6 linked regions of the Homo sapiens genome follow. Changing the gene in region 1 together with any one later gene gives a genetic interaction. Each region holds a gene or a part of one and is shown in the gene's direction. Other genes may lie near its edges.

What was found.
Region 2: changes in OPA1 (region 1) and APOOL together harm fitness more than expected from each alone (negative genetic interaction), as found in Homo sapiens cells (one large-scale study listed by BioGRID).
Region 3: changes in OPA1 (region 1) and XRN2 together harm fitness less than expected from each alone (positive genetic interaction), as found in Homo sapiens cells (one large-scale study listed by BioGRID).
Region 4: changes in OPA1 (region 1) and TIMM23B together harm fitness more than expected from each alone (negative genetic interaction), as found in Homo sapiens cells (one large-scale study listed by BioGRID).
Region 5: changes in OPA1 (region 1) and PITRM1 together harm fitness more than expected from each alone (negative genetic interaction), as found in Homo sapiens cells (one large-scale study listed by BioGRID).
Region 6: changes in OPA1 (region 1) and MBTPS2 together harm fitness less than expected from each alone (positive genetic interaction), as found in Homo sapiens cells (one large-scale study listed by BioGRID).

Annotation. Positions count from the first base shown.
Region 1 is NC_000003.12:193,595,463-193,600,238, forward strand, and holds part of OPA1 (dynamin-like GTPase OPA1, mitochondrial), read left to right. Parts: intron 1-4,776. UniProt on the Homo sapiens protein: Dynamin-related GTPase that is essential for normal mitochondrial morphology by mediating fusion of the mitochondrial inner membranes, regulating cristae morphology and maintaining respiratory chain function.
Region 2 is NC_000023.11:85,048,061-85,052,836, forward strand, and holds part of APOOL (MICOS complex subunit MIC27 precursor), read left to right. Parts: intron 1-3,328; coding exon 3,329-3,448; intron 3,449-4,776. UniProt on the Homo sapiens protein: Component of the MICOS complex, a large protein complex of the mitochondrial inner membrane that plays crucial roles in the maintenance of crista junctions, inner membrane architecture, and formation of contact sites to the outer membrane.
Region 3 is NC_000020.11:21,386,247-21,391,020, forward strand, and holds the end of XRN2 (5'-3' exoribonuclease 2), read left to right. Parts: intron 1-621; coding exon 622-760; intron 761-3,026; coding exon 3,027-3,092; 3' UTR 3,093-3,579; downstream 3,580-4,774. UniProt on the Homo sapiens protein: Possesses 5'->3' exoribonuclease activity. May promote the termination of transcription by RNA polymerase II.
Region 4 is NC_000010.11:49,939,612-49,944,889, forward strand, and holds the start of TIMM23B (mitochondrial import inner membrane translocase subunit Tim23B), read left to right. Parts: upstream 1-2,441; 5' UTR 2,442-2,583; coding exon 2,584-2,689; intron 2,690-3,623; exon of another isoform or gene 3,624-3,747; intron 3,748-5,278. Other genes in the region: PARG (poly(ADP-ribose) glycohydrolase), read right to left, coding at 1,898-2,114. UniProt on the Homo sapiens protein: May participate in the translocation of transit peptide-containing proteins across the mitochondrial inner membrane. the PAM complex.
Region 5 is NC_000010.11:3,158,803-3,163,578, reverse strand, and holds part of PITRM1 (presequence protease, mitochondrial isoform 2 precursor), read left to right. Parts: intron 1-3,248; coding exon 3,249-3,375; intron 3,376-3,642; coding exon 3,643-3,731; intron 3,732-4,536; coding exon 4,537-4,665; intron 4,666-4,776. UniProt on the Homo sapiens protein: Metalloendopeptidase of the mitochondrial matrix that functions in peptide cleavage and degradation rather than in protein processing. Has an ATP-independent activity. Specifically cleaves peptides in the range of 5 to 65 residues.
Region 6 is NC_000023.11:21,838,264-21,842,416, forward strand, and holds the start of MBTPS2 (membrane-bound transcription factor site-2 protease), read left to right. Parts: upstream 1-1,353; 5' UTR 1,354-1,471; coding exon 1,472-1,546; intron 1,547-4,153. UniProt on the Homo sapiens protein: Zinc metalloprotease that mediates intramembrane proteolysis of proteins such as ATF6, ATF6B, SREBF1/SREBP1 and SREBF2/SREBP2.

The DNA of each region.
Region 1 (4,776 bases):
TGACTGAATATTGAAGTCTATATTCAAAATTCTTTTCCTTTAGAACTGTAAAGGCATTGCTGCATTTTCTTCTAATGTAATTGTTTATTGCTGCTGAGAATTCTTATGACAATCTGATTTTTTCATCTTCATGATTATCTTGTTTTTCCCTTCATGGAATCTGTTAGGGTCTTGACTTTATCCTTTATCCTAAATTTCTCAAGGCTTGGACCAGGTGTGGGTTTGGTTTTGTTTTCTTTTGCTACTCATTTGACTTGGCACACTCAGTGGGCCTTTCCCTTTATCTTTCTTCATTTCTGAGACGTTTTTCTCTCTTATTTTTTATTATCTTCCTTTCATTTTTCCTGTCCTTTTTCTTTCTAGACATCTCTTAGGAGGATAGTGGTCCTCTTAGATTGATATGTTATGTCCGTGATTTCCAAAGTAAGATTTGTACTCGTCGTCTGTTAAAAGGAAAAGCATACATATACCCTATGTATATATGCACACTTTTTTATTTTTAAATTATATATGTATCTGTACTAATTATTTACATTGTAAGTCAACCCTAACATAATCTTAAAGGATAAGATACAAAACATACTGCATCTAGAAGCTTCAGTACTTTCTTCCTGAATCCCAGTAGATCCTTTTGTTCATCCCACGGGATGCATTCCGCCCCCATCCTCCCACTCCCTTTGGATACCACATTACCACAGCTCTGCATCACTTAACTTTCCTCTTATGTTTTTCACCTTTTTTTTTTTTTTTTTTTTGCATTTTATGTCCTGGGGAATTTCCTTAATTCATTTCATGGTTTTACTGTTGATTTTTTTAATATTGGCCATCGCAACTTTTCTTTTCTTTTCCTTTCCTTTCCTTTCCTTTCCTTTCCTTTTCTTTTCTTTTCTTTTCTTTTCTTAATTTTCTTTTCTTTTCTTTTCTTTTCTGTTCTTTTCTTTTCTTTTCTTTTCTTTTCTTTCACACAGGATCTTGGCGTGTTGTCCAGGCTGGCCTCGAACTCCTGGGCTCAGGTAATCCTCTCACCTTGGCCTCCCAAAATGCCAGGATTACAGGCGTGCGCCACTGCATTTGGCGGCAACTTAATTTTTTTATTTTTATTTTTCCTTTTAGAGGACACCTAGCACTGAGCATTGCAACTTTTCATTTCCATGAACTTTTAAGAAAACTCTTAAAGACATGTTTAATTCTGTACACTTTCTATTGTTCTTTGATTGCTGTTTTTGAATAACAACAAGGAGTACGCCTTAGCATTTTGATGGTATCCTCTTAATAGTCGCAATAATAGTCCCCTTGGCGCTCTGTATACTCTCAAGTCTTAAATGTTTTGTATGCAGCTGTACGTTGACAGTTGAATGGTCTCGCTCCAAGTGGATCAGCAAGAACATAAAGAATCATTTAACTGGTACAGGCTGCGGCTTGTGAATTCCCTATTAACACCAAAGAAGACGTGTGAGACTCCGTACTGAAACTAAAGACGACTTGTGAGTTCCACACTGAGATCAAATAAGTCTTTATGATGGTGACAGAGAGTGGTGTCAACGCCTAAAGTTTTGGTTAATCTCTCTAAATTGAGGGGCTGACCAAAAGGGGGAACTTAACTGTATTAGACATAATTTTGAGAAACATGGGTATGTGGATGGTAATGGAGGAAATGGGTGTAGATGAGATTGCCTAGGGAGAGTGAGAAGTAGGTTAGGTCTAAGCCTTGATGAGTTCCCAACATTTCCAAGGGTAGTTGAGGATACTGAAAATGAGTGGCCAGTGAGATAGAGGTAAAGCTAGAGACTGCCCAGGGGAGAGGAATTTTCAACAATGAGGAGGTGTCAACATTGTCAGGTATTGCTGAGAGGTCAGATAAAACCAGAATTGAGCAAAATGGCCATTGGAAGCCTATGGTGCCCTCCGTAAGAGCTGTTTCGCTGAAGTGATAGAAACGGAAATCAGGCTGGGCACAGTGGCTCACTCCTGTAATCCCAGCACTTTGGGAGGCCGAGGTGGGCGGATCACCTGAGGTTAGGAGTTCGAGACCAGCCTGGCCAACATGGTGAAACCCTGTCTCTACTAAAAATACAAAAAGTAGCCAGGTGTGGTGGCAGGTCCCTGTAATCCCAGCTACTCAGGAGGCTGAGGCAGGAGAATCGCTTGAGCCCCAGAGGCGGAGGTTGCAGTGAGCAGAGATCGAGCCACTGCACTCCAACCTGGGTGACAGAGCAAGACTCCGTTTCAAAAAAAAAAAAAAAAAAAGAAATGGAAATCAGGATGGTTTGGCTTTTATTTTAATAAAATAGCTAGAGCAGGGAAATGGGGTACTTTTTTTCCCCCTTTTAAGATGAGACATAGCCAGGTGCAGTGGCTTACACCTGTAATCCCAACACTTTGAAAGGGAGGGTCGCTTGAGCTCAGGAGTTTGAGACCAGCCTAGGCAACATAGCAAGACCTTGTCTCTACTAAAATTCAAAAAAAATTAACTGGGCATGCTGGCACACACCTCTAGTCCCAGCTATTTATGAAGCTGAGGCAGGAGGATCACACTTGAGCCCAGATACGTGGGGCTGCAGTGAGCCCTGATAATGCCATTGCACTCCACGTTGGGCAACAGAGCAAGACTTCGTCTCAAAAATAAATAAATACCCTGTCTCAAAAATAAAAAATAAATATGGGAGGAGAGATTTGACTTAGATTCCTCAAAGGGCAGGAGGAAAGAGAATTCCAAACAGTGATTCACCTTTAATGGGAGAAAGATCGCTTAATTTTACATGAGGAAGAAGAGGATTGGTGGAGATACAGTAGGTGAACAGTTTTTGTATGAGGAAGTTGAACATGTGTCATTCTAATAGCTTCCATTCTCTGTGAAGTAGAGGGCAAGGTCATCTACTGAGAGTTGGGGAGGTCAAGAGAGATAAGGGGAGATTAGAAGAGCTCTTCTAGCAGAGAGTGGAAGAATGAATTGCTAAGAGAGATGAAGTAGGATTGTTAAGTAGTTTTGAGGGCCCTGTTGAGATGTGCTTCCAGTTGGGTGTGATTTTCTCCAGTAGTGCTTTATTTCCCTGGGTACAGGCAGAGAGAAAAACAATAAGGCTCATGTAGGGTTTGTATTTTGTTGGACAAGTCAAACAGAAAAGTCAGAGGACGAGGGAGTTTAGAATGTTTGCAAAAGAGTTATTGAAACGATGAACCGCATAATCTAAGGTGGTAAGTGGGTGAATAGATAAGGAGGATGTGAATAGGTAAGGAGAAGAAAGAAATATCAGATTATTGATTATTGATGGCGACTCTCTAATACAGCTATTATGCCATTTTAACCGATTAAGAAACTAAGGCTTTAGAAAATTCATAATTTGCCCTAACTGCACAGCTAGTAAGCAGTGGAAATGTGATTGGAACCAGAGTTCTTCTGACTCAATAGACTAAATGGATGTAAGGATGTAGTTGAAAGAAGGGTGAGCTAAACGTTGTGGAACCATGAGCTCTTTCTCTGGTTGATATCCCTCTCTGTAAGTGATAACATGGGTCACGCTGGATAAAACCTTGTGGTGATTGGTGACTTTCCTTTGTCCTTCCTCCTGTGCCTAGTCTGGCGAGTATCTGCCTTTCCCTTTCCTTTCTCATTGCTGCCACCTAACTTTAGGCTCTTCCCCTTACATCTGGGTAACTGAAATAAGATCACCTTTTTGTTCCCCTTCTGATTTACTTTGACCTAACATTATCTTTACTATTTTCTTTAAATTAATGTTTCATTAGTCTTATTCTACTCAGGAACTCTGTAGTTCCCCATTGCCTACGAAAAAAAGTTAAGCCTCAGCCTTATATTCAGTGACTCTTCAATTGGATATTCAGTCCAGTTTTACTCCTCCTATGAGCCTTCTATGCCAGCTCCTTGGGTCTCTTGCCCTTTCATTGTCTCAGCTCTGCACCCTTCTTTCTCTTTTTTATTCTTTTTTTTTTTTGTACTTTTTTGGTTTTCTTTTTGGTTTCTTTTTTTGTTTTATTTATTAAACCTCCATCACACTTCATCCTATGGAGTTTTGAACCACAGCAAGGTGCAGTATCATCCTGGGGCTCTGGAGGAAGTGGCAGGGAGTCCAAAATGTCACCTTAGCTTCTTATCTGGGGCCACATGTATTTCTGCATCTGCTGCTTCCCACACTCTTGCCCACAAGTGTCGCTTGTGGAAATAATTTGAGATTTACTGTCTGGCTGACCCTAGTTTCAATCTCTTTTCCACCATTTGCTAATCATTCTACCTTGGGCAAAACATAGAATTAAAAGAAAACTTCAGACAAGTTAAATTTGATGGAGTTTAATTGAGCAAAGAAAAAAAATGATCCACAAATTGGGCAGTCTCCAGAATCACCGCAGATTCAGAGAGACTCCAGGGGTGCCTCGTGGTCAGAACAAATTTATAGACAGAAAAGGTAAAGTGACCTACAGGAATCAGAATTGAGACATAGAAACAGTGAGATTGGTTACAGCTCGGCGTTTGCCTTATTTGAACGCAGTTTGAACACTCAGCAGTCTATGAGTGGTTGAAGTATGGCCGCTGGGATTGGCCAACACTCAGCTGTTATTACAGATGCATACTACTAAGTTAGGTTTTCGATTTTGTCTGCCTATTTGAGCTAGGTTACAGTTCGTCCACAAGGACTCAAATATAAAAGTACGGAGTCCTCTTCGGGCCATATTTAGTTCGCTTTAACAATTCCCCCTTTTGGTCAGCCCCTCAATTTAGAGAGATTGACCAAAACTTTAGGCGTTGACACCACTCTCTGTCAC
Region 2 (4,776 bases), on another chromosome or scaffold:
TAGAATGAATTTCTATAAGCCGAAGTGTAGGTCAAAAGGCATAAAACATTGATAATATTGCCAAACTAACATGCATAAAGGTAATATTCATAAATTCAACCAAAAATATTTTCTAAGCTCCTCTTATATATTTGTGAGGCACTGTTCTAATTACTAGATAAAGTTTATTTTCATTAATGGTCTGGGGTAGACTCATTTCCCTACCCGCTAACTGATTCTAAGTATTTTTTTATTTTTTCTGTTTATTAATCTTAGGAGGATGTTGATTTTAAGGCTTCCTTGACACTCCCATATCTGGACAGCTCAAATCTAGGTAGGAAGATAAATCCCTAATGGCTGAATTTAATTTTTGAAATTTTAAAATAAAGTAGTGCTGCTTATTATGGAATATGCAGTATTCCTTGGTATTTATTGTATTCCCCAAGTACATTTTAAATATCATTTAATTGAATTACTTATCAAACAAAGTTTGTTGCCAGCTATGTGCTAGGAACTATACACAAAGTCAGGATCTAGTCCTTGAGGAATGTAGAATTTCTGAAGGGATTAAAATGTGATTTATGCGCAACATTTCTAGCTACTTTTATTGTGTAAAGTGAGCTATACTTCTGTTTAAATCTGTAATAACACTTCTACTAAACCAGAATACTTTATGAATGAAGTGTTCTGGTTATTTGGTTGTTTGAATCTTTTGGTAAACTTGCAGCTAAACAGAAAATCTGTTTTAGTTCAACTCTTCTCACTAAACATCTTTTTAAATATTCTCAATATATTCCTGCCTTATATGCCATCTAGTGAACATAATTAAATCTCCCTTTAATAGAAAACTCTGTAGCACCATGAGACAATCATTTTTTTTAACCATGAAATCTGTAGTATTCAGATCAGTAAAATGACTGGCAATTGGAATGCATGTATACAGCCAGCCCTAGACATCCCTGGACATTTCTTTTTAAAATCCCTCTATGAGATGAATTATACTTATTTTCTTGCCATTTGCTTGTTGTCACTGAGAAATAACAGAAAAATACTGATTTGAGAGTTTTAGTTACTTTGGTTCAATTTAATTTTAAATGTGGTTTTATAGCTTACTCAATGTAATCATAATTTCTAAATGAGAACATACAAGTTCTATCTATACAATAAGTGGCATTTAAGCCCCAAGGTCTCTAAAATTTGTAGTGAGAATGCTTTTCTCAATGGAGGCTATAGTAACATGCTACTGGCTAGCTCTTAAAATTCTTAAAGTAGAGCTGAAATCCTATCATCATAAACGTTTCAACTATGCCTATGCCTTAGAAGGAAAATACTTTAAAACACTGGTTCTTAACCATTCTGACCCCTTTGAGAGTCTGATAAAAACTTTGAATGCTCTTCCTAGAAAACTACATATACAAAATTTTGTTTATAATAGGCAACAAACAGATAAAGAACCTGAACCCGTGAGGCGCAGTGCCTCATGCTTGTAATCCCAGCACTTTAGGATGCCAAGGCGGGCGGATTGCTTGAGCTCAAGAATTGGAGACCAGTCTGGGCAACAGGGTGAAACCCCATCTCTACAAAAAAAATACAAAAATTAGCCGGGTTTGTTGGGGGTGTGCCTGTAGTCCCAGCTACTCGGGATGCTGAGGTGAGAGGATTGCTTGAGCCCGGGAGGTTGAGGCTACAGTGAGCTGTGTTCATGCCACTGTACTCTAGACTGGATGACAAAACAAGACCGTCTCAAAAAACAAACAAACAAACAAAAAACAACTTAATCAGCAGGTTTTGATGGGGACAGAGGAGAGAGAATAAGAACAATGAGTGTAATAAAGTTTGGAATTGGGATGTGTAAATAATAAAGAGGATAGAAACATGATGGACAAACATGTAAGTAAATAACGTTGCCCACTCTGACACCAGTACATCCACATATACCTCTCCTTTCTAGGGGAGAGAGGAAACTTGCCTATTTGCAGTGCACCTGCTTTTTATATATAAAACGCATCTTTAATAAGATATGCATCTCTCACCTTCCTAATTATACATAGTTGCCAATGTGGTGAATTTAAGCATTAGTCCAGAAAGATAAAACACTAACTCTTTAATCCTGGTATGGGTAGTAAAGAGTCATTTAATGGTAAAACAAGACTTTTCTGACTTACTACTGGAAAAGCTTTACCAAACTCACACTGTCTTATGTTTTATTTATTTTTTAACTTTAGATAAAAAAACTGACATAAAATTGTATGCATTTACCTTGTACAGCATGATGCTTTGAAGTATATATACATTGTGGAATGACTAAATCTGTCTAATTTACATATGTATTACCTTGAATAGTTATCATTTTTGTGTTGAGGACATTTTATACCCACTCTTAGCATTTTTCAAGAAAACAATATAGTGTTAACTATAGTTTCATGTTTGTTGTTGGTAGAGGAGCAAATCCAAAGTCATTAATCATCTAGTTCCCTTGATGTTGATTTGTAAACTTGATTCTTCCCAGTTCTATCTTCCTCAAACACCAGGCTTCATAGGAGGATTTATACCCTAAATATAAAAGCAAAAAAAAAAAAAAAATTTTTTTTTAAAGGAAGTAAGTCCCTACCTGGTTAAGTTTTTCATTGTTCTTTTGTGTATGTTTGTTTTTATTAAATACTAATTAGAATCAAAAGGCTGTTCAAAATATGAAAGGTATGAATAATAATATGATGATGATAATGATGTACAACCGTATACCTAGCACCCAATTTAAAGGAAAACAAAATCCTCTGTGTTTCCATTTCATTCCATTCAGAGGTTACCATTACCCTGAATTTTTACTATTATTCCCCTCCTTTACTTTTTAATTTTACCTTATATGTCTGTATTGCTAAGCAATGTTTTTTTTAAGTAACCTTATATTCCTGAAATTCATCCAAATTTTTCCATGTTGCTGTAATTTTTATATTTACCCCCTAATTTCTAATATTTCTTTGTACGAATATACCCCAAAGGATCCATTTTACTGTGGATGGACATTGGGTTGGTTGTAATTAAAATGTTGCTGTGAACGTTATTATACTAACTCTGGGTGTGCAAAGACAGTAGTTTCTCTAAATATACATAGGAGTAGAACCATTGGATTATATTATATTTGGCATCTTTTAATTTCTGGGTTTTAAACGGTCTTTATAAACAGTTTACCACATCATTCCTGTATTTAAGATGGTTTTTTAAAAGTATTTTATCAGCATTTTTAGTTGTTTTTAGAAAGAAGGCTGATGAGGATTCCTGTTCTGCCATACCGCTGTTATGGACAGTCCAGCTATTTTATGTTTTTGACATGAACATTTTTTGCCTGTAGCTCCCCATATATACTGCACCACCGCTCCAGTCTAAATATGTTGAAGAGCAGCCTGGTCATTTACAAATGGGCTTTGCTTCCATCCGCACTGCAACTGGTTGTTACATTGGCTGGTGCAAGGTAAGTCAATTCTGATAGTGGTTTAATATCAGAGATTTCTGATTAATTGTTCCAGTTACCTACTGATGTGTAGAAAACTAATCCAAAACTTAATGGCTTAAAACCACAACCATTATATTACATCTTATGATTTTGTAAGTCATGAATTTGATCTGAGTTCAGACAGGTGATTTGTCTGTTGCATGTGGCATTGACAGAGGTGGCCCAGTGGGGTTCATCTGGCAAATGAGCTGATCTAGACAGTCCAAGACAGCTTTATTTGCATCTCTGGCACCTTGTTAAGGATGGCTGGATGACTGGGTTCAGCTGGGATTATTGACTAGAACACCTACACGTGGCCTCTCAAGCATGGTGATCTCAAATAGGTCAGATATAACTTACTTGGGTAATTCAGGGCTCCTAAAGACAATGTTACAAGTGGCCCTAGGCAGAATTTGCCAGGCTTTTTGCCTATCATCAGATATCCAAGAAAGTCACTTCTACAGCATTCTATTGTTAAGTCACTAAGGCCAGCTCAGTTTTAAAGGGAAGGGAATTAGATGCCAACTCTCAGTAGAAGTAGCAGCAAATAATTTGTGGCTATATTGAACCTACTCTACCACTACTGCATAGATTAAAGTAGTTCAGCAAGGATTTATGTCACCTAGCATGTACACAGTGTCACTCACTTTTTATGTGAAGTTCTGAGATTACTTCTGAATATTTTCTTCTTTGGCTAAGTAAAGTGTTATTTACTTGTTGGCGTTAGCTCATAAGACCATTCTAACTACAGTAAGCTATTGGGCAAAGTAGAATACACGTGACTTTAATGCTTAGCCTTCAATCAGCAATATCCATCAGCAGAGTGGTGGAGTAAGCTGATGCAACACTAATGTTTCATTATCATCACATAAACATCATTGTGTTAGCATCTCCAGTGTCAGTATCTTAATGTTGGTACCAGTGTTTTCATCATTCTAACCTAGTAACCATGCGACTTTTCCCCAAATATAGCCTGATGGTGAATCATTGTTCTTTTTAGTTTCTATCCATTATCTTTAAAAAGAAATCTAATGAACTTATGAAAAATAATTTGTGCTTAGGTGAAATACCAAATCAATGAACTCTGGTAATTCCAGATAATATTTCAAATATCTGATAAGTACATGATGTTATTTTTGAAAACTTGTGTTTGTCATACAATTCTTATGGTACTAGTTGTACTACACACTATTAATAGTTTGATCTAAGAGGGAAATACCTTAACCAATTATGGTCTGAATCATGCCCCTATGACTATGTGCCAATAGCTAGATGATTCAGACTTAAGCCTCCTGAGATGTAATTTT
Region 3 (4,774 bases), on another chromosome or scaffold:
GCCCATGCCAATTAGTGCTCATGTTGCTAGGTCACCGTGGTCAATTGAAAGCTGCATCAATAGAACTTGAAAAGGTTTCCTCCCAATCAGACCTTCTGACATATTGAACAGAATAATGGATGGGAAAAAACAGCCAAGTCTCCTACCCTGGATTCAAAATACTCAGCAGTAAGAATTCATTTGCAACCTGCAATTAAGTAGAAAGAATGGATCCAAGAACGAGTCTGGACATTTTTGAAAATAAAGCCTCATTCTCCTGTCTTGTACATGTTTACTCTTTGGATAGCATCTTAAATGTAGCCATCTTGGTGATCTTGGGTCTACATCTTTAAGTGACTAAAAAGGAAATTTCCCAATTGAAAATGAACAAAATAACTTTTAAAAGTCAGAACTTCTCAGTTGAGTTTAAACATCCATTGTAATAAATGCTGATGCTTCATGAAACATGTTAGATTATACTGGATATAAGGGACACAAAGGCCATTCTGATACTCTGTATCCCATATGATAAATCCAGGTAAATTGGATTGTACTAAAATTTGGAGATGATACCTGCCGATTTTAGGCTTTGTGCTGTATAATAGGTGTGGCTTCTGATGTAAAACTGGTACTTTCCTACAGAGGCGTTGGGGCTGAACCTCTGCTCCCATGGAACCGGATGCTGCAAACCCAGAATGCAGCCTTCCAGCCAAACCAGTACCAGATGCTAGCTGGGCCTGGTGGGTATCCACCCAGACGAGATGATCGTGGAGGGAGACAGGTAAATGGTTGTGGGATGAAAAGTATACTGCTCACTTTATATTTCAACAAGCCTCACAGGACTCCGTATTTTCTTACCAACATTTCTGGAGAAGACACTGATAGAGTAGCTTAGAGTAGCTTGGCTGAACTTGGGTCTGTCATTAAAAATGTATATGGGTTGAGTACCTGCTTCACTAAATAGGTTATATACCTTGAAGATGCCAAAGAATTTCTAACCCAAAAGCCCTTTAAATCATAGCAGTCAGTGATAATTAGTCCAAGTATAGTCAGTCACCAAAACACATTGTTTTTCCTTTAAGGATATTGTTCTTCAATAGAACCTAGATCCCTCTTAATGGGTGATGATTTTCTGGAAGCTGGAAAGTAAGTCTGCTTTTTCAGCTGTTGTCTTTTAGAAGTCATTTTACAATGTTGTCATTTTAGAAGTCTCCTGCCTTGATTCATCTGATATCCCTCCTCATAAAAGAAATTTCTGCTTGATAATCTTCCACATATTTTTCTTCTCAATGTAAGCAGCTGTATCACTGAATGACTATCATAATTCCTAGACAAATTTAGTATATGTAAGCTTCATGTCCTTCTCTTTACAGCATCCAGTTTTAGCAGCATTTAAGACTGAGGTCTATTTGACATAATTTCCTCCAGCAATTTGACACCCTGGCCAGTATTTACATGCTCTTAATGGAATCCTTACTAGAGAACAAGATTAGAATGCTGTGATTCAGAGTAATGTGTATGGAGTTTGGCACCTGCAGTGATGTGAAGTGGTTTTTAAATTGCTTACCTGGTGTTGCCTCCAGGCCTTTTGCAGTGCTTCACATATTAATTAGTAAGACCTCTCTTCTCACAGCTAAGGAACATATTTTGTATGTTTTTTGATGTATTCTTACAAGTATCTCCACCTTACAAGAAGATAATCACCTTAATTGCAAATAATTTCTTCTGAGATTTTGTTACAGTTTATTTGAATCAGTTTATCGAATTTTGCTTTGAATTCTTTCAGCCCAGGACCTCTAAAAATCGTGTCAGTGAACTAAGGCTCTTTATGTTACTATGGTTAGATGGCACTAGGCCGTTTCAGTGATGAGCATTTTTGAAGTGAGGACTATTTGTAACTGGAAGAAACCTTGGAGAATGTGTAGTCTAGTCACCTCATTTTCCAAGTCAGGAACTGAAACCCTGAAAACCCCACACGGTTCAGCAGGAGAACTGGTAGCTGGCTGCCTAGACTGCTGACCCCAGTTCATCCATTTTCCTCTCTCCTTTGGAGATCTTCCTTTTAAAGGAACTCTGTGCTGTTACAGGAGGTAAAATTCTTATTTACTTAGAAGATATAAACCAATTGGTAAATTTATTATTCTTTTAGGACTTTTTGAAAATAACATTTCTTCTTTCTCAGTCCCTTTGCCAGGGAGATACTTTTTATTAAATCACAATTGTTGAAGCACTATTAAATTGCAGAAGTTTGTTGTTAAAAACATAGAATCATTACTTCATTGTATTTTTAGTAAAGTTTTATATGACCAAACAAGGCCTTAGCCTGCATTCTGGCCTTGAGTCTGCACATGTTCATGTTTAAAGTACTGAAGTGCTCTCTGGGTGGCAAAATGAGGTGGGAGGGGGTTCCATTTCAAAACCCTAGAGGCCTAGGAAAGGACTTATAATGAAGAGGTGTCAGGTTTATCTTTTGTTATACAGAAATGTTATTTGCAAACATACTAGGATATGTTATAAAGGTCACGGCTAATGGATTGTGTAATAACCTTAATATGTCATTTAAAGCCCTACTATTTGTTGCTAAATAAAAAATCCCTAAAATCAATTGCTCATTTGGCCTTAACTGACTTAGCAAGCTCTTGCCTTGGTTAAAGCAAAGTTACTTTCCTTGTGTAATAAGTCTAAATTGATGTGGGTATCTTACCACAAAGTGACTTGAATTACTACTGCTAGGACAGTGAGAAAATTGAGAACCACTGTCTGTACATGTTGTTTACACAGAACACTTTAGTTATTTGTGTGCATTTGTGATTGTTAAGGTTTTTTGTTTTATTTTTCAGTAATAGCATTTGTGCTAGCCTCCAACTTTGCAACAAGTCTGTATTAAAGCTCTGGATCAAAGCACCTTTTATGGGGCCTTTCCATGTGCTGTACCTTTAACACATACTCAGTTTCCTTATGATGTGTTTTTCCATAGAGGTTTAAAGTTAACTGACTTGCAGGAGTATCGGTCCAGAAAATAAACTCTTTCTTTTGTTTATTTTCAGGGATATCCCAGAGAAGGAAGGAAATACCCTTTGCCACCACCCTCAGGAAGATACAATTGGAATTAAGCTTTTGTAAAGCTTTCCCAAATCCTTTCATCATTCTACAGTTTTATGCTATTTGTGGAAAGATTTCTTTCTCAAGTAGTAGTTTTTAATAAAACTACAGTACTTTGTGTATTTCTTTTAACTGTGTATATTTCTACTGATCTGATCTCACTGTTTATGTTGCTTTCCAAAGATGTATGTTGCATAATACAGTGGATCTGAATTTATTATTGCTTATAAAACACATTTGATGGAATAGGAGTACTGGTTTTTCATAATGGTTAAAAATGAAACCAGCTGTGGATTTCAAAACACAGTGTATTCTAGATCATCTAAGATCCATGCTGATTTTTATTGCACAAGAATTAGGTTTGAACTCGAGCTGGAACCTCAGCAAACTAGAGTATATATTGTTCAGTATTTCTTTGGAAACATTTCATTAATGTACTTGTCTTACAGAAATTTCTGAACTTTAGTAAAAAAAAATAAAGTTAAACTTTTAAAACTCTGTTTTGTGTTGTTATTTTGCAGTATTTCAACTTTGAAAATCTTGACCAAGCGTGGTTTTTTAAAATTAACTTTTGCAGAAAACTATTTCTGTAATCAGATGTCCAAACCAAAGGACAAAGAAGTCAATGAAGAAGTAGATTTTAAAAGATAGGGTCAGCAAGACATAACAAAAGCTTTAACTTTGTTGTATTATGTCAGTGACTGATCTGGCTAACTCAGAAATCTTTGTGAGATAAATTACATTTTTACAAATTTAATGTAGACTTCTCCAGTTTTAAGGACTTGTTTTAAATCTTCAAGTTGACAATTTTAATTAATGGCCAAATAGTCTATGCTCCTTAGCATATTTTTGTATGTCATTAGATTGCAATTTGTACTCATGTTTTTCCTTGCTACTAAGTACACTATAAATTGCTTAAATGTGTGTTTGGAGTTCACATACAGCACTTACATATGCATTTTCATTTGATTGCCAAAACATATTTAGACACACATACAGAGACTATTGCTTTGTTTCAGTTTTTCCCTCCTAGCCCAAGATTGTGAGGTAAAGCTTCTCTTTGACCTCCTGACTTAGGATATTTTTGCTTTAATATTCAACTGAAGCACGCTTGTTAAACTTAGTCTGTGGGAAAAAAAAAAATCTCACCTCAACCTTGAATAGGAAGGTATTTTGTAGCTATTGAGTTCATTGCTAATGATGGGTGACCAGAGCAGGATCCTTTATTGTTGAGACAAAGAGTCTCTCCATCAGGAATTACCAACCCAACCCTTACATAATTGCCTTCGCTCAACATTCAAGTGATAATGCCTTCTATTAAATTTCTCTGTAAGTTTATCTCCCAAATATTAAAAATGTAGACAGCCATCTCAGTAAAGCATTGCATATTCTAAAGGAGCTTATAAATGTTTTACTGTTTATAGTTCATAGTCAAAACCCACAATTCCACTCTTTATATTCTCAGACCTTTAGTTTTGGCTTAGTTTTAAGCTGGCCTGAGACTGACTCAGTTTTTGACTGAATGTTTAAAGCACTGTTTGGAAGACATCTGAGCAAAAGGCCTGATGGAGAAACTGATGACGGCAGATTTCCTCTGCAGAACTGGCAGGTGTTCCCTCGCTGAGCCGGCTTCAGGCCCTGCTCCGTGACCTCACCCTTGCTTCTTCCTCTCCATCCTTAGTCTTCATCTCTT
Region 4 (5,278 bases), on another chromosome or scaffold:
CAGAATAAGGTTGAAATTCCTTAAAATGGAATTTGAGTTTCTTCATAAGCTCCTGTCTGCCACCCAGCCTCATCAGACACTCCTCTGTCATCTTATGCTCCAGTCTTACCAACTTTTGCATGTCTTATTTCCTCTGCATGTATAATTCTTTCTCCTCTTGATTTATACAGCAAATCTTCCTCATCCTTCAAGGCCTAGTGCAAGTCTACTTGGTACTGCCCCTAAGTATGAAGACATCTAAGTGTAGACTCTTCACCAGAGAACTGCCCGAGCTCTGCCCAGCCTCTTACACTGTTAACGAATGCATCCTTTTTGAAATGATCTCCTTTGTCTGACACAACACAAGCCAGGCTTTCCTCCCACCTCTACAGCCGCTTCTCTTCAGTCTACTCTTAAACTTTGGTGTTCCTAAGGCATCTGCCCTAGGTCACCTTTACTTTCTCTACATGTTTATGTTATCTATGCCCATAGCATCCATTATAATGTTTATGCCACGAACTCCCCAATCTACTTCTCCAGCACAGAAATATTTCTTCTCAAGTATCCCATTCTTTCATGAATCCATCCCCTTCCCTATTGCCAGCATCCAGGCCTAAGCTACAATTATTTCCAACCTAGATTAACTCCTTAACTGAGTCTTGATGCTCCACTTGAGTTCCTTTTCAATCCATTCTTTATTTTCCACACACCAGCCACACAGACTTTTCAACAAATAAATAAGTCTAATCAAGTCACTCCCCTACTAAAAACCCTTGAGTAGCTTATCAATGCCCTTAGAGTTCAAAATCCTTAGCAATGTCTACATATCCAATTTGATCTGACTTTTCTGTACCACCCTGCAGCCTCATCTCTCACACTCTCTTGCGTTCACTCTATATATCAATTGCACTCCTGTTTTTGTTTTGTTTTGTTTTGTTTTGTTTGAGGCGGAGTTTCGCTCTTGTTGCCCAGGCTGGAGTGCAATGGTGCCCTCTCGGCTCACTGCAACCTCCGCCTCCCGGATGCCAGCGATTCTCCTGCCTCACCTGCCTCAGCCTCCCGAGTAGCTGGGATTACAGTTGCCCGCCACCACGCTAGGCTAATTTTTTGTATTTTTAGCAGAGACGGGGTTTCACCATATTGGTAAGGCTGGTCTTGAGCTCCTGACCTCAGGTGATCCACCCGCCCCAGCCTCCCAAAGCTCAGGGATTACAGGCAAAACCACCGCGCCCGGCCTCGGTTGCACTCCTGAAACACTTCTTACTTCCTCTTCATCTAACTCCTACTCATTCTACAGTCCTCAGAATAAGCATCTCATCTTCTGGAGGACTATTTTCGATTCCATAAATTCAGTTAGGTAAAACAATCTGTCATTCATCTATCAGAACATCCATTACCTTTTATTATATTAACTTTTGCTATCGTCTATCTCTCCAGATAGATTTTAAGGTATGAAGGCAGAGGCCAAGTTTCTCTCGTTCAACACTGTATACCAGGGACGGGTACAATGCCAGCTTAAACTAATAGCTCTGCACCCTGGGACCCAGAATCTGAACAAGTGAAGTTGTTTTCTTCCTATCTAGAGGCTGAAGCGCCCTACTGTTTTACATACACAATTAGATCTCCTTGACGACTAAGGCAATTTCTCAATCAAACCTGAAGAAGCAAACAGGTGGTGGAGTCTCCTGCCATTTTCCGCCCTGTGAGTGACTGCTCATCAGAGTTTCTCACATCAATCGCACTGGGAAAAATGCGGCCCCATTCACCCACTAGTGGCTTTGGTAGCTCAGCAAGTGGACCTCAAGAGTGACGATGCACACAAGACCAGAAAGGAGTGACTGGAGCCCCTGGGTCCTCAGACTGAGACCAGAAGGTTCGGGCCGAGGCGAAGGACAAAGATTTTTATTTTCCCACGTACCAAGCGAGGTGGCGCTGCCTCTGTGCTGTCCCGCCCGCCCTGGGACGCAGGCTGGCGAGGACGGTGGGACCCTGAACTGCACGTGAGCGTCCTTGGGGTCGAGGACGCGCCTCTGCCTGCTGGGAAAGCTCCGGGCGTCCGAAGCAGCCGGCGAAGTTGTAGCGGCGCCCCAGCGGGGTCGCTTGGTGCAGGGTTCACAGCCGGGGCCCGCATTCATGCTGGGACCAGCAGCGCACTGTCCCCGGGCCGGCCCGGGCGGAGAGCCTCATTCACTAACCCTGAGAGAGATGGACTGCGCCTCCTTCTCAGCGCCTGCCTGCACCATTCCCTCTCTGCCGCTGCCTGCTTCTGCAATTGCTGATCCGCCGGCCTCCCAAGTCAGGCCGTAAACACTCGCCTGCCTTCCCTCTTCCACTGGCACCCCACCTGCCTCAATGCGCCGCTTTGATTCGGGATTCGTTCACTTTCCCACCACCGGAAAGCTGCCGTCAGGCGCTTCCGGCTTCCGGGGCGCACACTGCCGCAAAGCGGAAGTGTGGCGCTTAACGGGAACCGGCGCCCGGAATGTCAGCGTGTGAAGTAGGCGCTGGCAACGCGGGGTTACCCGCTGTTATTGAGGAGTAACGGCCCAGCGGACCACCCAGGCTTGAGGCAGCGGCGGGAACCACTCGGTTTGCTGCGATACCATGGAAGGAGGCGGGGGAAGCGGCGACAAAACCACAGGGGTATTGGCCGGCTTTTTCGGAGCCGGCGAAGCAGGTTACTCGCACGCGGATTTGGCTGGCGTCCCGCGTAAGTATGGGGCCTAGCTTGCGATTATTTCTGACTGGTTCTTGCGTTTACACTAAAGTTGCGCGTCCCATGTTTTATGTTGTTGGTTTTTTTTTCCTTGCTGGCGTTTACAAGCTTAAGTACCAGTGGTGGGGTTAGTGTATCTGCATGGCTGCTCTTTCAAGATAGAAAGGCCTAAAAAAGGGCCACGGATCTCCTGGGGAAGCTGTCCGTGATTGACCTGGACTCGCGAGATGATGCATGTTTTCTTAGGTTTATATCCAAGCCTCGTACGTTTTGTGTGTGGTGGGCCGTGTGATTGACCCTTAAGAGTAGAGCCCAGCTTTGGGAGTAAATGTATTCCAAATAGCAAGCCCGTAGTTAACTTTTTAGTACACAGTGACATATTCTGAGCCTCCAAGTAGCCGTAAGGGCAGAATATTCAGTAATATTGCATGTAAGTGAGAAATAAATATGACTTGGGACAGGCTAGGAAACCTTCTTTAGGAGCTAGGAAGTAAGCTGAACTTTAAAGGTGATATATAGACATGAAGAAAGAAGCCAGGTAAGAATTATAGGAAAGGAAATAGGCAACATCAAGGTATACAGAGGCATAAATATCTTGCCTTTGCCTCTCCTCGGTCTTGTGAATATGTTTTCCAGAACTTTGGTACTTTGTAACTGTGGTTGTTCAACTAGATAAATAGAACTTGGACCTAAAGATAGGCAGTTGGTCGTGGATAAAGCCTTTACGAAAGTACTTTCTTTTTAGAGAATCCTTGTAATATTTCTCTAGGTATTTTATACTAAGGAACAACAACAACGAAATATGTTCAGACTGACTCTAGTGCAAAAAAATATAAAAGACCTTTCATTTCCCTGGTGTCACCTTTGTCAAAAAACTGAATCTACAACACATGGTGTTTTGTTTCGTTTTTTTTTTGTTTGTTTTTAGAGTCAGGACCTCGTTCTGTCACCCATGTTGGGGTGCGGTGGCATGATTATAGTTCACTGAAGCCTGGCACTCCTGAGCTCAAACAATCCTCCCCTCTAAGCCTCCTAAGTAGCTGGGAATCTAGGTACGTACCACCACACCTGGCTAATTTTTAAAATTTTTTTTTTGACTTATTGTGGAGATGGGGTCTCCCTGTGTTGTCCAAGCTGGTCTCAAACTCTCGAACTCAGGCCATCCTCCTGTCTCGGCCTCCCAAAATGCTGGGATTCCTAGGCCTGAGCTACTACTTTACCTGTTTAGAACACAGTTTCATATTAATCTTAGTATTTCTGAGTTTCAGAGCACAAAGGGCATATACACTTCCTTAATGTGACAATATTGTTAAATTAATTTGATTAAGATTTGAAGGTAAATTGGGGGACCAGGGAATGAACACCATTTACTGAGCTTTTACAGTGTGCTAGCTACTTTTCTGGGGGCAGGACTATAGTGGTTTTTGTGGGTTTTTTTTTTTTTTTTTTTTTTTGAAAAGAGGACCCTTGCGCTCACAGAGCTTACATAATACTGAGGTAAACCAACAAACATAAATTAAAACATTGCCTTTAGTGATAAGTGCTGTAAAGGGAATAAAGCAGAGTCATGAGATTGTGATGGAAGCAGGATGCCATTTTAGAGCGGATTAGGGAAAACATCTCAAGGGAGTTGACATTTGAGCTGTGACCCAAATACAGTACAAATGCTTGGGAGGCAAGTATCCAGGAAAATAGCTAGTGCAAATGTCCTGAAACAAAACAAATTTGGCATGTTTAAGGAACAGCTCTTAGGCCAGTCTGTCTTCGTAGTTACAAGGGAGTTGGATCAATTGAAGCTTGTGAAATCAGAGAGGTAGGGAATGACAGCTAATGTAGGATTTTGTAAGTTATGGTAAGGAGTTTCGATTTTCTTAAGAAAAATCACGTAGTTGCTATGTAGACAGTGAATTGAAGGGGTAAGAGAAAGCAAGGAGTTAGGAAATTGTTGCTGTGAGATATGATGGTTGGACTAGGATGGTAGCAATAGAGAAGATAAGTAACACAATTCAAAATGGGTATTAAAAATAGAACAAGCAGGACTCCTAATTGATGAAAAGATAGAGGCATGGGTGATGCATAGGTTTGTAAATAACTGCTGAGATACAGAAGGATCCAAAGATGATAGGTTTTACTGTTTTCAATGTTAGTGAATTCAGGTCTGGCCCTCTCAAAGTTTGTGTTTTCTTTTGCACAGACCCACATACCTGTGGTAATGACCCAAGGATTCTCAACCTTGCCACAGTAAATCAATCGTTAATAGTAATATGTGAAGGAACTGCCTTGAAATAGTTAGATACAACATGTACACAGTCAGAAAACCCAACCCAACCACTGTTTTTCCCATGGAATTGATTAGTCTTTTCTCAGTCTTATTTTGTAATTTATATAGTCACCAAGCATTCTTGTAGTAAAGTGAAAGAAATTAGCTTTGTAAATGGCCTGGACTACACTTCCTGTAAGTTCAAAAATCAGATCTATGACACTGCGATTATCTTATTGGTGTAAAAGCCTGAGCCACCAGTGGAAGACCTGGTTTGGGATTGAGGGTCTCAGGATGAGTCAGCCCCCAAACTGACAGATAGG
Region 5 (4,776 bases), on another chromosome or scaffold:
TATCTTACTTGGACATTGATTTTGGACATTTACAATGATAGCCCTCAGGAGGCTCAGCATGGTGGTTACAAACACAGCGTTTAGAGTCCCCCAGAGGAGGGTCCTGGCCCCGCAGCCTGTTGCCTCACATCTAGCTTGGTTGCGTGGAAAGTGGGGGTGCATGGATGGTGCCCACCTTGACACGGGGTGTGAAGCTTGAAGCCCTCTCCTTGGCACGGAGAAGTGCTCTTCCAATAGTGGATGCAGTTACTGAACCTTAATTACATCCTCACTTTCTGATACATTGCTTGTTCTTATGTCACTAATACAAGGTCATTATAATAATAATATAGTCATATATCTTATATAAAACACTAATTGTATTTACATATGAATGCTAATGTAAAAACATATTTGCAAGATTATTTTATGTAAAAATAATTATGAAAACTTGAAGCATACAGAAAAGTAGAGATACTAGAATAATGAGCCCCTAAACACTTATCATGTAATAGATATCCTTTCCCTTGCTGAAGTTTTTGGAAGTAAATTATAGACGTCATGATCATTTGCCCGTAAATGTTTGAATTTGTGACCCTAAAACGTGAGGATTTTTTCTTACATGAGCTAATGCCATTTTCAGTTTTAATAGAATAAAACATACTTTCTTAAAACTGCCTATTTCTTATTCCATATTCAGATTTTCTAGTTGGCCCCAAAGTGTTTGTTGCACGGGGTCCCACAGGTCACACCTGGTCGGCCCGGGTTTCTCCTGGGCACCCTCTAGGGGACGGCAGAGGAGTGTGCAGGCCCAGTTTCTTTCTGGCGCACTCACTTTCCAGGTGGCCTGGCTGTTCCCGCCTGGTGTTGGGTGCCATGTTCCTGTGTTTCCTGAGCACTGGAACTTAGATCCAAAGACTTAGTTTGAGTCAGGCTGTGCCTTTGTAAGCAGAGTCCCTCATGGGGAGCTCTCCATAGACGGCCACATCCTACCATCATGTGAGGTCTGCTCGCCTCCACTGGGGATCTCACACCAGCGGGGTCCATGCTGAGAGTCAGCCACTGCCTTGGGAAGATCTGCTTTTTCCCTTCAGCCACAGACCATCTGGTGGGCTTGAGTTTCTGGTGTCCTGTGATAATGAGTTCCTCATCAACCTATTAATGGTTTTCATATTCATTGAGGATTATTGCCTGAATCAATTACTTTATTAGAGTTTGCGAAGTTTTCTAGTTCTGTAACTTCTTCATTTGTTTGCTGGACTTCTTCAAAGAAGAGCTCCACATCAGCTGGGCTATCGGGTTATCTTGAAATATGGTTCTGTGGAAAAGGCAGGGCCGGCTGCTCTCCCTGGGAAGTCCAGTTTGAGGAGGAGGGGTGGTGCAGGAACTACTTTTAATGGTGACAGAAGAGGCTGTCTTGTTTTTTTTTTTTTTTTTTTTTAAAGACAGGGTCTGGTTCTGTCCCCCAGGCTGGAGTACAGTGGCATGATCTTGTCTTACTGCAGCCTCAGCCTCCTGGGCCACCTCAGCCTCCTGAGTAGCTGGGACTACAGGCGCACGCCACCATGCCCAGCTAGTGCTTATATTTTTTTGTAGAGACAGAGTCTCGCCATGTTGCCCAGGCTGGTCTTGAACTTCTGAGTTCAGTCTGCCCACCTTGACCTCCCAAAGTGCTGGGATTACAGGTGTGAGCCACTGCGCCCAACATGGAGAAGAGAGTTCTTTCTTTTCTTCTTTTTTTTTTTTTTCCCCAGTCTTGTTTTGTTTTTTAGTACCACTCTGACCTCACAGAAATATTTCTGTATATGTATATATTTGAGATTATGTGATCAGATGGAATTTATTCATTTTTATGCCCACATTTGCCCCAGCTGTGGGCCCGTTTTGGTCTAACTTCTTTGGTTTCTACGCCCCCACCCCCACCTCCCTAATGCACGCACAGCCGGGCCCTCCCTGCTCCAGAGGTTCAACTGTCTGTTTCCCCAGGGAGCTCTGATTTCTGTGGCTAATGGGGAAGGGTCTTTGGAGAGCAGCATCTGAACACTAGGGGTGGTGATTGCTCCTGGATTCTCTCAACCCCGAGTGTGTAAAATTTGTTTCTAAATTCTAGAGTGAGAAATTTCTGAAGGTTCTGTAAGATACTAGTTTCCCAAACCTTAACCATAGCTCAGGCTATATAGTAAAGAAAAAGATAAATTCTGTCATTGTAACCTTTTTCCTCTGGTTGAATAAATGTGTTATCTTTATAAACGTGTATAACCTTGAATTTGTTGCCAAAAATTGAGTTTTGTGAAATTGTCAGTTGGATTACTATATTACTGTACCTAGGGTTATAAAGTGTTTTAACAAATACCTCATTTGGTTTTTGTCACATCTAGATGAAGTTTAAAATGTAAGATCGATTTTTGGCTAGGTGTGGTGGCTCATGCCTGCAAATCCAAGCACTTACGGAGGCCAAGATGGGAGGATTGCTTGAGGCCAGGAGTTTGAGACCAGCATGGGTAACATAGAACCCACCTCTAAAACTTAAAAATTAGCCGGTCAGGCACGGTGGCTCACGCCTGTAATTCCAGCACTTTGGGAGGCTGAGACGGGTGGATCACCTGAGGTCAGGAGTTCGAGACCAGCCTAACCAACATGGTGAAACCCTATCTCTACTAAAAATACAAAAATTAGCTGGGCATGGTGGTGGGCACCTGTAATCCCAGCAACTTGGGAGGCTGAGGCAGGAGAATCTTTTAAACCTGGGAGTCGGAGGTTGCAGTGAGCTGAGATTGTGCCATTGCACTCCAGCCTGGGGGGACGGGGCGAGACTCCATCTCAAAAAAAAAAACCCCCCACCAAAACCAAGTGTGGTGGTGTAGTCCTGGTAGTCCCGGCTACTGAGGAGGCTGAGGCTGGAGGATTGCTTGAGGCTGCAGTGAGCTGTGACGGTGCCACTGCACTCCAGCAGATGCCTGAAGCCAGGAATAGCACCATGCCCTGTGAATGAACGTTGAATTTATAAATTAGGCACAGCGAGAGGTTAACAACAATAACTAATAATAAAATAGAACAATTATAACAATATACTGTAATAAGTTACATGAATTTTGGTCTCTCGAAGTACCGTGATATTTTTGGACCTTGGTTGAGTAAGGGTGACTGAAACCGAAAGGCGAGACCTTGGGTAAGGGGCACTCCTGTGCTGTGTTTCAGTGAAACAGACAGCACTTGATCTCACATCTTTTAAACTAAAACAGACTAATTATATTCCCTTAAAATTTTAGGTTCTTCACGTACGGTAATTTTCCATTAGAACAGCATCTGAAACAAATTCACGAGGAAGCACTGAGCAAATTCCAGAAAATTGAACCAAGCACCGTGGTGCCAGCTCAGACACCCTGGGACAAGCCTGTGAGTGCCCCACCGTGTTTGTGTCCTTCCTGGTAAATATGTTGACATGAGGACTTGGACTGGGTATTGATGATGGGATTTCAGATGCTGTCATGTTTGGTACAGAGTATGGGAGAGCTTTTCAAGCTGAAAGAATGGTAATTTGTTTGAAAGGAAAGTTAACTTAGTGGAAAGCCTGTTTCGCTCCATTTCGTGTATCCAGATAACCTAGAGTAGTTGACAACCGTCAGACACTGTGCCTACTCACAACGTCACGTCATTTTACAGAGGGAATTCCAGATAACATGTGGCCCGGATTCATTTGCTACAGATCCCTCTAAACAAACAACCATCAGCGTTAGCTTCCTCTTACCGGAGTAAGTATATGCTGTCAAAGCTCATACAAGACAAAAACATGAGGAAAATGTTCCTATTAGAAGGTTCGGAAGTGAGTTCTACAATTGAATGTTAATTAATATACGGTTAGGATTCAGGGGTTAAGTGGATTTTAGGAATAGAGAACAAAATGTCGAAGTTTTTAATAACATCCAAAATGGTTTTTGAGGAAAATCGTTTTTGATAGCCCTCCGGAAGAAAAGTAATTTACTTATTGTATTTCAAAGCTTTATTCCTACAGAGAAAAGACTGCCTCAGACCAGCAGGTGCTCACATTTTGAGGTCACAGGTCCCTTTGAGTGTGAGAATGGTACTATGAACATGCACCTCGGCAAAATATATCACATACAAAACTTTGTAATTCCGGTGGTTTCACGAGACTAGGTCGGAACCATGCCCGGGGGTGTTCAGGAAGGGAAGGCTTGGGCTCTGGGCCCTCCCGTGCTCAGCCTGCAGCTCCGTGGCTGGCACCTCTCCTGGCTTGTTCCTTGTCTCCTTAATGGTGCTGCCACAGTGCCTGTGATTTAAATCACGTGTGAAAAGTGCTTGGCAGGCTGTCCCATGGTGAGCATTTCGTGTGCAGTGAAGTTAATTTGATGGTTTGTGCCCCCCTTCAAAAATCCCGGTATTTAAGGAAAATTCTCTTCTGCTCATAAAATTGTTAAATGTTGAAATGCAAGAATTTCTAGAAAGATGTGTAGTGGTTTTAAATAAAATGTGCATAAGGGCCAGTAATTTTCCCTTTACTCTTTTCTTACCTCCCCGTTCCTTTTTTTTTCAATGCAGCATCACCGACACATTTGAAGCCTTCACATTAAGTCTTCTGTCTTCACTCTTGACTTCTGGGCCCAATTCTCCCTTTTACAAAGCCTTGATTGAATCTGGCCTTGGCACAGACTTTTCTCCTGATGTTGGGTGAGTTTATGATTAGATTAGATCAGTAGTTCTCATTGGTTGGGGGCAGTTTTGCTCCTCCACCTCCGCACCCTGTCCCGGCCCCACACTTGACAGTGTCTGGAACATTTT
Region 6 (4,153 bases), on another chromosome or scaffold:
GAGTAACAGGGTGCTTGAATACAAACTTTTATAATTTACACCCAGCTATGTCCAAAGAAAACGGAAATAATTTATAACAACACATACACACACAAATAGGCAAAGATATGTAAAACAGTCATAAGCTGTCTTGAAGCTGGAGAAACATGTCCCTAAGTGAGTAAAACTTTAGGAAAAGCAGGGAGAATGAGGCAAATTAGTAGCAATATTTGTAATATAGGTTTCTGGTATTATTGTATATTTTCACTTGGAAGGGGGTTGAGGATACATTTTTATTTGGGATACTTGTTCTTGAGATAGTATTATGTTCTCAATATTTTGGTATTAGCATTATTATAGCTAATGATGCTTTTCCAGAAAAGTTGAAACAAATAACTTTTAAAGATGCACATAAATAGAACGTAAAAAAACCCCAATAAATAGTTTTCTTTTCTCTTAGAGATTATCTAGTTCAGTGGTTCTCAACCTTGGCTGCACAGTGCAATGACTTGAGGAGCTTAAAAAGTATAAATGCTTGGGTCCCACTGAGCATCTGATTTAATTGGTCGAGGATACAGAACGGGCATCGGGAATTTTAAAAGACCTTGGTGATCCTAAAGTGCAGGTAAGGTTGAGAACTGCTGCTCTAGTTCAATATATAATCAGGTATACATTAACGTTAAAATGTGTAGGTGTTCAGAGTTCTGATTTTTAACCATAGCACCATCTCAAATATTATAAAAGGTTGAAAAAAGAGCCTAATTTAATCAACATGGATAAATTTCAAAAAGCATGTTGAACGATACAAGCCAGACACAAAGAGTACTTATTGCTTTCTATTTACATAAAGTTAAAAATAATCAGAACAGGGGGAGGGGCTACTGACTAGGAAGGGACGCAAGAAGGAAATTCCTGAGAGGGAAATTTTCTCCATTTTGATTAGGGTACACGTATATATATATATATATATATTTATCAAAACTCACAGAAATGGACAATTGAGCTCTGTATGTATGATTTCATTACATGTAAATTTACACTTCAGTAAAAAGGATAAACAATTAAATCTGGATATCTATGACAGGGTCGGGGAGGGAGAGATTATTACTTCAGACGACCCCAAATCCTCATGGGTTAAAAGAAACAGCAAACCCCTGACCAGAACTGGCGAGAATGGAGAGTAGACAGCAGGGAGGGCCAAAGCCTAAGAAATCGCTACAAGACTAGATGCCGAGTTCGAACTACTGCCTGGACGGCAGCGCCCGAGCGCCCGCAAAAATAAGCCCCCGTGCCATTTCCGGTACTAGCAAATCCTCCTGTATGTCCCCACTGGAAGAGTCCGGTGGGAAACCGTGCCACCGCAAGGAAGGAGCCGGCGGTAGCTTGGTTCCTGAGCGGATGCTGGGGCTGTAAGGCGCGCGCGGTCAGCTGTTGGCGGTGCAGGGAGGAGGACGCCGGGGCTCGCCTTCCCTCCTCTGCCGCCGCTGCCGCCATGATTCCGGTGTCGCTGGTGGTGGTGGTGGTGGGTGGCTGGACTGTCGTCTACCTGACCGACTTGGTGCTGAAGGTGAGGGCCTTGGGCCTAAGGTCCAAGCCCGCGGTGCCCATGGCCGGAGCGCAAGGCCTTCTTTTCTCTTCCCCTGCCTGGCGCCTCCCGGGCTGGACGGTGCCCACGTGCGACAGTCCGCGTGGTGGATCGGCCCGGTGGAGTAAATAAAACATTGCCGGCCGCGGGAGGGTTGTGGCGGCCTGCGCGGCTGCCACTGTCGCAGTGCGGGGCAGTGCAGGCCCTTCAGCCTTCGGGTCCTGCCCGGGAGGCGCCAGTGGTGGGATCGGGAGGGCCGGGGCCCTGCCAGACCCAGCAGCTGCAGTGCAGCAGGGAGGAAAAGAAAACGTCTGCTTAGTAAAGACAGTGCTTTCCCTTATTGTTTTTAAGTTCAAAACGCTCTAGAGACTCAGATATTGGAATGAATCTAAATCAAGTCGTGATTGAAATCAGTAGTCTCAAATTTTTAAATGCATATGATCATCTGGTTTGCGGTCAAAATGCAGATTCCGATTCAGCAGGTCTGCGGCAAGGCCTAAAATTCTGCATTTCTAACCAGTTCCCAAGTGCTACTGATGCTGCCAGATCACAGAGTGTACTTCAAAGTAGCACACTCAAATAGCAAGGATTTACATAACCAGTTTCTAACTACTTGAATTCTGATTTACACGCTGCACCCCACTTCTTCACACTAACCAGATACCCTGGGTGCACGGTCCATTTTCCAGTTATTTGAGAAGGGTAGCAAAAAATCAGGAAGAGTCGTCTGACCACATGCTTCAGGCAAGCTTTTGGAATTGAGTACTGGGGGGTAGGGGATGGGGAAGAGTAACTATATATGTGGAATAAGATCATATAAATTCTCAAGTGTTTAATAAAAATTCCAGTTATGGATAGCAAAATCTTCATGTTATGAATACCATTTAAAATAGAAAACCATAGTATTGCATGTTTTAGCTTTAACAATAAAATGAAATGAGACTTTTCCTTCTATCATTTAAACTTGTAAAGTGCAGGAGGTTACATAGCGTAGTCCTTAGATCCAGGGCTGGGCTTCTAGCCAATGTGACCTTGGGAAAATTGCTATCTGTGCCTTGGTTTCTCATCTTTAAATAGAGATAATAGTAAGGATCTCCTAAGATTACAGAGAGAATTACATTAGTGTATCCACATAAAGTCTCGCTCCTCAACTTGAGGTTCAAGGACCAGTAGCACTTGCATCATTTCGGAGCTTGTTAGAAATGCAGAATCCCAGGCCTCACCCCTGACCTAGGGAATCCGAATCTGCATCTTAGCAAGATCCCAGGTGACTCCTCTGCACCTGTTTGTGTTTGAAAAGCACTGATGTGGCCGGTCACAGTGGCTCACACCTGTAATCCCAGCACTTTGGGGGAGGCTGAGGTGGGAGGATTGCCTGAGTCCAGGAGTTTGAGACCAGCCTGGGCAATATAGTGAGACTTTATCTCTACAAAAAATTTAAAAGTTAGCCAACCATGGTGGTGCATGCCTGTAGTCCCAGCTACTCTGGAGGCTGAGGTAGGAGGATCTCTTGAGTCTGAGAGTCAGAGGTTAACAATGAAACAAGATCGTGCCACTGCACTTTGGCCTGGGTGACAGAGCAAGACCCTGTCTCAAAAGAAAAAGCACTGATTTAAAGTACTTGGCATAGTGGTTAACGTGTCATAAGCAATACAGGCCACAATGATTTTGTTGTTTGAAAAAGCCACATGAGCCAGGCATGGTGGTGCAGCCTGTAGTCCCAGCTACTTGGGAGGAAGAGGCGGGAGGATCGCTTGAGGCCAGGAGTTCCAGGCCAGCCTGAGCAACATAGTAAGACACACACACAAAGCCACATGATTTCTTCATGTTGCATATGTGAAAAAAATCTAAAATAAAAAGAACTTTTACAGTCCCTAGTCACAAGTGTGTGAGGTGACCAAGATGTCACTGGTTTCAGTAACAACCCCTAGCTCCTTAAGAATGCACCAACCTCTGAGCAAAAGACCTAACGCCTACTCAGAGTATCTGCCTGGGAAATGGAGAGACCTCAACTTTTAGGAGCCTGCACCTTTAGTTTCTCTGCCTCCAGCTTGGTCTGCTGATCCACCCTGGGCTTTTCTAGGATTTCTGCATAGACATCTGTTAGAGAAGTTGTGTCACTCCTTTTCCAAGTCTTGGAAAACAAGTACACTTAAAATTTAACTACCTGAAGACTGAGAGCAGATAATACTACAGATCCAAAGCAAACAGCTACCTATATTCAGACTATGGTCATTTTTTAAGACTATGATAGGGCTAAGATTTCCTTCTTGGACAGATAAGTTTCTCACATGGGTGGGCATGAATATGACAATACTTACTGTACTTACTGTGTCAGGTATATAACACAGCCTTATGTCATCCAAAATCCTATATTAGTCAAGGACTTCAAACTTCCCTAAAGGTAAAACTCTTGTTGGGGCTGTGTATAAGCCCCTATCCCCACAACCCCAGAGAATTTAAGGGACATTATTGAGCCCAAGATGGCTTTAGATAAGTTTTTTACTTTTTACATGATCGAGGTTGGCCTAACTTCTTAGAGTTGTTGCTCAGAAGAAGAAAGCAAACACTGATCGCAACTGTCCCTTC